Linked DNA regions of Homo sapiens: all the other regions are linked to region 3. Evidence: fine-mapped expression QTL. A gene starts in region 3. Each other region holds a variant in brackets. All regions are shown on one strand. Distances are between the middles of the regions. Region 1 has its middle 92 kb from the start of MIR4473. Region 2 has its middle 200 kb from the start of MIR4473. Region 3 holds the start of MLLT3 (MLLT3 super elongation complex subunit).

Region 1 (2,759 bases), 300 kb after region 3:
GGCCTTTCACTCCCAAATTGCCTGAAACCTGGTCACGTCCCAGCCAATGTCCTCTGCCTTTTGATGAGCTCCACTGTGAGGGGAGAACTAGAAACTGTGAGGAGTGGGTAGACTTTTTCCTACTGCGCAGTGAGATGGGAATTTGGTTACATTAAAAAATACATCTGTATTCCTTTTATCATGCAGATGAAGTAAAAAGGAGTATATAAAATAAATTTATAGTTTTGCATTTAAAAGAGACACAGACAGAGAGAGAAAGAGACATCTTTGGCCTTTGTTATTTGTTTGACATCTGCAGTCCTGCTGGACCACTAGCTTGGTGAGGGCAGCTGGCAGGCAAGCCTGTGTGCTGTTGTAGCCAAGCCCCTAGCACAGCTCATAGTAGGGGCTCAGTAAATGTTGAATTAATAATTAATCTCCATATCAAATTTCCTCTTTGTCCGCAGTCATGAAATTCATACGTGTCTTAAGTTTCAAAGCACTGAGTGAATATAGCTTGCCCTAAAGCAAACAAACAAAAATAGCATTGCTTGGAAAGATCTCGTTTAGCACCTTAGTTACCACAAGTGCTCATTAGGGCTTTCTTTTTCTCTTGAAGGTGTACATTTGGCTGAGCGTGTGTAAGTGGGTTATGTGACTAGCCAAATGCCTTCTCTCTTCTGTACTTGAAGCCCTGCTCTCCCAAGCTGAAGAGTAGATGACTACAGGGAAAATGTGACTCATAGCAAGTGTTGTTATTAAATCACCTTGAAGTGTCTCTTGTAAAAGATAACTCCCTGCATTGTAGAAATGTCTTTGACAAGAGAGGATTAGGGTGAAACTGCAATTACCTTGACATAAAGGAATGAATTAACTTTCCAACTTGCATTTTTGCAAGGCATAGATTCAAGCTGCTTGGAATATAAACATTGAACACATTCACAATAGCTTGGGGCACTTGAAAATTCTAAAGATGGGCAAGGAGCCCCAAGATGCTAGGCAACTTCAGAGGTATTTCTCACCACAGAGGGAGTGCCTG[T/C]CTGGACAGAAACCGCCAGTGCAGTTGTGCAGTGTCTGCTCATGTGTCAGCAGGGTTTAGGGGACCGTCAGGACGAATGCCTCCTGGAGCTGATGCCTGCAGGGTCTGCCCGGAGGAAACAGAGAAATGCTCTTCCAAGATTTGACTTCCAAAACTACCCATTCACTCGACTCAGGAAATATTGACCGAGCACTTACTATGCGTTGGGGCGTTGGGCCGTGAGTTCAGGCAGTCTTGGCTGTCAGGGACTTGGAAAAGTCACACGTTAAACAAATCGTGTGGGCATGAACCTCAGTCAACAATTCATGTGCAAAAATACACACTTTTGTTTGTTTTCTTTAAGTCAAAGCTGACTCTAAGCTCTCATCCTGCCAGGGCAGCAGGAAATTCCAACTCCTAGTTTTGCACCAGAAGCCCAGGGCCTTCACGAGGATTCTGAAAACACAGGAAGGGCCTCTGGTTTCTGGTCCATCATAGCTGCTGCCAACATCTCTATTTTACCTCAGTCTCCAGATGGGCAAGCAGGCCAAGATGTGAGGCAGCTCAGTGTGTTCTGCTGTGTCAGTGTGACCTGTGGGTATATGAATGTCCACCTGAGCTGGAAAGTCCATGACAAGGCCCTGGCGTCCTCAGGTGCACGCCTTGGCCATCTCTCTGAGGAATATTCACAGCTCCCTAGGCACACTTCTGTCGGAGACACAGGCAGGCTCTAACCAGGGAGGGGAGGGGGTGGTCTGCAGAATAGGGCCTGAGCCACCCTTGGATGATAGGGGAGTAGGTACTCTTGTCCAACTTCTAATAGGAGACTGGGCACTTAATTGTCCAATTTCTTTCCTCTATCATCTGTCATATTCTTAACAGCAGCCATGTCAACATATGACTTAAAATTGTTAAAAAGCCCAGCATGTTGGGAGGCCAAGGTGGGAGGATCTCTGGAGGCCAGGAGTTTGAGGCTGTAGTGAGCCATGATTGTGTCCCTGTATTCCAGTCTGGGTGACAGAGGAAGACACCAACTCAAAACAAAAAATTGTTTAAAAGGCTGAATTTTTAGTAAATGTATTCAGGGGAAAAGTATTCCACTAACACTTGGTTACATTTCAGTCTGGTCTCTGCTAAGCTCAGCATCTGTCTACCGTCATCCACCTTGAGAATTTCTCTCCTCTCTTCCTGTCATCGAAGGAAGGGCTCTCACCCTTTGCTTTGCCTGCAAAGGACTGGGTGTTTTACATGAAGAACAATGTCTTCCTTCAGCTTCCACTTTCTCTCTGGAAAAATCCCTGCAGCAAAGGAATGCAAAGCCAGGCACCTGGTAGAAATGAAGAAATGGAACCACAGAACACCCATGAATGAATGGTTCAGCAGACTGTCCCACCAGGCCCCAAATCACAAAGCGCATGAGGATAATGAAAGAGGAATTGCCTGCAGCCAAGGGGCACATGGTGGGCTGGTCTGAGGGGCCAGAGAAGGCCTCCTGGAAAACGTGTTGACTAGGATAAGGTCTCGAGGATGAAAAAGAAGTTCACCAGGGAAGCAGGGTTAGGATGTTTACAGGGCCAGGTCACAGAGGGAGAGGGGCAGTCAGAGAGGGAGCAGGTATGGCCTGAGATCTGAGCAAAAGCCCAAAGGGCAAGAGAGGAAATATCGATGGTGACCCAGTGGTTGTTGAGTCTGTCCTTGTCCACTGGGTCCCTTACAGGAGGGCTTTCCCTCATGTGGTTTGTTTGTATGGGGCCTGTGTATT
Region 2 (2,759 bases), 410 kb after region 3:
TGCCTTGGCCTCTCAAAGTGCTAGGATTACAGGTGTGAGCCACCGCGCCCGGCCAGCATGTATTATTTTTATAATTACAAAAACAAACAGATATTTTCCAGAAGATAGGAAAGACTAGTGCTAACACCAATCAGGATAGCAAATGCTTATTCAAACTTTGTCTCTTTTTTTTTTGCCATTAGCTCCAGCAGCTGTTTATCTGATATATGTTTAATGGCAATAATAAAAAGATCTTTTTTCCTCTTCTTTCTAATGCCAAAGGCAGTCTTGTCCTTCTAAAACCTAAAGTTCTGCCTATTCCGGAACACAGTCTAGATCCAAAAGGTTTATATTGACTGTTCAGACTAAGGTAGACCTGAAGCGGGCAGCAACAGCAGTGGGATTGTGATGATAATCACATGTCAAATTTCTCTTCCTCTCCCCTCTCCTTGCTTACAAGCCCCATCCCTTGGCACCGTTCACGTGCACAAGAACCTTCTGTGGCCGGGCGCGGTGGCTCACACCTGTAATCCCAGCACTATGGGAGGCTGAGGCCAGTGGATCATGAGGTCAGGAGATCCAGACCATCCTGGCTAATACGGTGAAACCCCGTCTCTACTAAAAATACAGAAAAAAAAAAAAAAAAAAAAAAAAAAAAAAAAAAAAAAGCCGGGCGTTGTGGCGGGCGCCTGTAGTCCCAGCTACTCGGGAGGCTGAGGCAGGAGAATGGCGTGAACCCGGGAGGCGGAGCTTGCAGTGAGCCGAGATCGCGCCACTACACTCCAGCCTGGGCGACAGAGCGAGATCTGTCTCAAAAAAAAACAAAAACAAAACCTTCTGCCTTCTGCATGATGATTTTGTCCATCTTTTCTTCTCCCTTTAAATGCTATTTAGCCAAATGTTTGTCTTTTGTCACTGCTTTCTACCACCTGACACATTTTATTTTATTATTTAAGAGCCATTTGCTTACTGTCAGAAATTACTTTTCTAGTTACCAGCACTTGCTTTAAATGTATGTGATGTTAGTTTAAGCTGTAACTCTGGGAGGCCACCTGCTTCTCTGCCATCCTGCCAGGTGCTGGGTCTGGGTGTGTAGGTGCGGGTGTTAAACCTGTCCCCCAAAGAAAACCACAGCAGGTCTTTTATCCCTTTTAAAGCCCACCACAGTGGGCTTGTTCATCCTGTGTGAATGTAAACTTCAGAGAACTTGGTTCGTGGAATTCAGGAAGAAATAACACTTGCTAGAAACCCCTGACAATGAACTCTTCACAAGACCCCTTCAATTAAGCTGTCTGCAGGTTTTAAAAAGTGTTTCAAGGTTCTAACTACTTTCTTTCACTTGAGGTATTGAGAGATACCTATGAAAGGCCTTATGATCAAGGTCAAGAAGGATGGTGTTATTCTAGTTATTTCATATTTCAGGCGTACTTAAACCAAATGTATACTTTTGAAAGTCTTTCTTATTTTTTACCAAGCACAATCTTGATGTGGTTTCTATTGATTCCTGTTCCACTGTGGATTAGGTAAGAAAGAGCCACTTTTCTTTCATGGACACATTTGACTTTGAGGGGGTTTGTGGTCGGAAAAATATCAAAGTCTGTG[A/G]TTACTTCATGCTTTACCCAGTCTTAGGGTGAGTGTGGCTGGCGTTTGGTTTCAAGGCGTTGCTGGATGTTAAATGAGGACTTGTGAAAGCTCTCAGGTCTGAATGGGGATTCAAGAGCCCCCAGTCTGGGGGTGTTGGTGAGTGACAGGATGAGAGAACTGCTATTCTCAAAACTGCAGTGTCTGTTCAGAGTAGTAAAGGAAGCAGTTGGCAAATTCGGGGAAGAGAGCTTGTTTAGCACTGTGTTTCAGATTTTAATAGAGAGGGGTTTCTTAGAATATTTTTACAGGACACAGAGGTTATGAGCAATAAGGAAGGGAAATAAAAAACCAAGTAGTTTTCTTGCATGGCTGTTTGGCTAGAATTTCATAAAATGAATGTTATCTGCAAGAAGACTAAAAACAGGGTGATTCATTACAGAAACTGTGTCCTTAACATGCTAATCAAGTAGTTACATATGGGAATAAAACAGTCAGTTAAGCTGGTCTTGAAGCCTGACTGATTTGAGACCTGGAAATGCTCTTGGCTGATTGACTGGTGTGAGCAATCATAATAGTAATAGGTAACATTTAATGAATGCTTTGCTAAGCCTTGAGTTACATCATCACATTTAATGCTCACAGCAGTCTATGAAACAGATACTACTTATGTCTCCATTTTACAGAGAGGGCATATGAGTGACAAGGTAAATAAGTTAACTGGGATCACAGAGCTAGTAAGCAGTTGAGCCGTAGTTTGAACTGAGGCACTGCACCTTAGTTACTCAACTAGATCCACGTTGCTGACTGGCCAGATCCACTTCCTTGCTCCCCATGTCCAACAAACCAGCTGAAGAAATCTACAGAGCTTTGTTAATATTCCTCCTGTTTCTGGAGGCAGCCATTAAGGAGGAGTAGGTCCCAGCTCCAGAACGGGTTTTCCCGTAACACGGTCATGACTCTCTTGAGTTATGTTTCAGCTTCTGGGCAGTAGCCTAGATGGGGGTCTATCTACTCGTTCTGGAAACAACCATAGCTGGGCTATTTTTTCCTTTATTTATGGGTCATGAGCACTGCCAGCAAATTTCTCTGAGGGGTGCATTTAAATATGCCACATTTGTATTACTGTATGTGTATGCTGGGTGAAACATTTATGATAAATCAAGGTTTTAGGTGCCCTATGGGAAAAGCACTGATGG
Region 3 (2,713 bases):
GCGGAATATCAGTTTTAGGGAATCAAAAGTTGAGTTGGAAGGCTGCTGGTTTGGAAACTAAGGTTGGTTCCAAGTGGTCCGACCTGATTCCCAGGATCTTTGTGAGAGCTGCTGGGAGAACTGAAAATTAACAGCGAGGACACAGGACGCCCTAGGTAACGTCCTCCCCGCTATTCTGCTCTTCTCAATTCAAGGGCCGAGACAACTTGCTTTTGTGGAAAAGGGAAGTAAAGGGAAAAGAGGAAAGCAAGGAAGTTCAGTCAGAAAGAGGAAGAGGGACAAAGAGGAAAGAAAGGGACAAAGAGGAAAGAAAGGGACAAAGAGGAAAGAAAGAGGGACAAAGAGGAAAGGCAAGGAGAAGAGAAGGAAAAATCAAGGTTCAGCAAGAAGTTGGAAGGCGAGGGAAAAAGGGGAGTAAAGAGAAGGCAAAAGAGGTCTAAGGGCTAGGAAGATGCAAGGATCTTTTTTTAACGAACCAAAGTCACATCCATCTTTCACTTTCAAATCAATCGTCTAGATCTTATCCGTTTCCTTTTTAAAGGTTATCTGCGTCTGTAAAGGAAGCCAGTAGTTGATACTCCTCTCCGCGCCCCACGCGTGGCCGCGCTGTTCTATCTCCGGCCACTGAGATCAAATACAACGCGAGTGAGAACATTTGCAGAGGCGCGACTCTGGGAACACTCCTGCGACTGGCTGTCACCCGGGAGTCTAACCGGATTAATACTCAGAGATGGATTACGCTGGTTGTCACCAATACGCCTAAAGATTATAATCCAATTTACGCACATTACAGTCAGTATTAACTTTATCTGCTATTTTAAGACTCCCGGTTGCCCCGCGCGTCCTCAGAGGACAATCCTCCACGTTCTGATGCAACTCAGTAGGCTGTCAGGAGGGGAAGCCCCCCGAAGAAAACAACTCCAAGCCTGGTCCCCGAGGGTCTGTACCCGGCACTCCCAGGTGTCTTGCTTTCACCTGGGCACCGCTTTATGAAGCTTCCCAGCCGGGGATTACCAAAGCGGAAGGCGTTCCCTTGCAAGGAAATAGCATCCTTGTTTCTCCCTTGTTCATTTCATTTTCAAATTTTCGGTGGCGGTGGCAGAAGGGCGGGGAGTGAGGGTGGCGGGCGGGTGCCTGTGAGTGGATGGGGCAGGGGGCCAGGGGATCGTTGCGGGTTAGAACAGCCTCAGTCATTGCTATTTTCATGCTCGTTTTTTGCAGGATGGCATTTCTCTCGCTCTCTTTAAGTAAGTTTGTTTGGGTGTGAGTTCTTGTCTTTTCAGCACAAAACCACAGAAATACGTGGTGGAAAGTAAAAGAAAGCCCACTCCCTCCTCCCCGTGCGTACTAGCTAAGGACTTGATTTAACACCCCCTCTCCGGCTGCTGAGGGCTCTAAGCAGTGGCTACATTCCAGCAGTTTTAATCCGTTTTTTATTGTAGGGCGAGCAGAGTTTACACAGGGGCTGGGATGGCTCCCCAGCTGGCCGCTCTCCCCACTCCTGCGTCCCCTCCCTGCCACCCCCCCAGCAGGAACCTGTTACTTTAAGCGAGGCTTTCCAGTGTGGCGCTGCGGGCCGCCGGGGTTTCGGGAGGTGGCAGGTGATTGGCTCTTTCGAGCTCCCCCTGGCTCGCTCGCTCTGCCTCCCCGCGCGCTCCGCCCCGCCCGCAAGCCCTCCCTCCGCCCTGTGAGGCTCGGAGCCCGGGTGTCAGGCGCCACGGCGCATGCTCCGCAATCATCTTCTTTACCCTGGAGCTGCTGCTGCTGCTGCTGCTTTTGCTTTTGGGGCTGAGTTTAATAAGCGAGCGAGCGAGCAAGCGAGCGCGGGGGGAAAAAGGCAGAGAATGTCCGCCATCTACCCTCCGCTCCTGGGCGCGCTCTCATTCATAGCAGCCTCTTCATGAATTACAGCTGAGGGGGGGCGGAGGAGGGGGGGGTACCACACAACACCCCAGCAAACCTCCGGGCCCCCAGGCATGGCTAGCTCGGTAAGTACGCGCAAAAATAATAATAAAAGCCCTCCCCCACTTTCCTTCCTCGCCCTGCGCCGCCGCAGCCCAGACAGCGCCAGCGCTCCGCGGTTCCAATTAGAGAAAGGTTGGTACGGCTTGCAGGGAGCTGCCGCCTCTCCCTCAGCCTCCGCTCCCCTCCTCCCCCACCCCCCCCCGGCGCGCACACAGACACACAGACACACACACACTCACACACGCTCACACTCGCCCCTCCACCCCCCGCGCCTCCCTCCCTCCTCGCCTCTTTGCAGTCACAAGAAGCGCACTCACACACTCCCTCTCGCTCACACGCGCGCACTCACACACACACACACACACGGTGGAAGGAGGCGAATAATAACTCAGCCATATTTCAGCCGCCGCCGCCGGGAGCTGCGGGCACAGTCCGGGGACGCGGCGAGCAGCCTCGGCGGCCGCACCTCCGCAAAGCGCCGCGGCCGCTACGATGGTGCGTTCTCCGCGGCGCGCGTGTGTGAGCCGAAGTGTGCGGGGCTGACAGCGGCGGGGCCGCACGCAACTTTGCCCCAGCGCCGGGAGGTGCTGAGCGCGAGCCGAGGCTCGGCGGCTGTCCGCCCGCCGCCCTGCCTTTCTGAATTTCATTTTTTGGGGGGAGGTGGGAGATACTTTGGAGCCACTTGGGCTCTTGAAAGTGTGTTGCGGGGGCTCGGTTCGACTGGCCTCGCCGATCGCGTGGGGCTTTT

What was found.
Region 1: its variant is fine-mapped to the expression of MLLT3 in breast (GTEx, PIP 0.96).
Region 2: its variant is fine-mapped to the expression of MLLT3 in whole blood (INTERVAL, PIP above 0.99).

Annotation. Positions count from the first base shown.
Region 1 is chr9:20,318,037-20,320,795 of GRCh38, reverse strand. No RefSeq gene overlaps it. Among named protein-coding and RNA genes, the nearest start is that of MIR4473, 92 kb to the left of the region's middle. The variant T/C (reference allele first, on the strand shown) is at 1,019.
Region 2 is chr9:20,208,526-20,211,284 of GRCh38, reverse strand. It overlaps a transcript of SLC24A2 not described here. Among named protein-coding and RNA genes, the nearest start is that of MIR4473, 200 kb to the left of the region's middle. The variant A/G (reference allele first, on the strand shown) is at 1,582.
Region 3 is chr9:20,621,520-20,624,232 of GRCh38, reverse strand. It overlaps MLLT3 (MLLT3 super elongation complex subunit), which reads left to right and starts at 1,734. Exons shown (of 11, transcript NM_004529.4): 1 at 1,734-1,988. The coding sequence starts at 1,977. RefSeq lists silencers at 1,136-1,275, 1,296-1,755, 2,176-2,325, 2,396-2,445.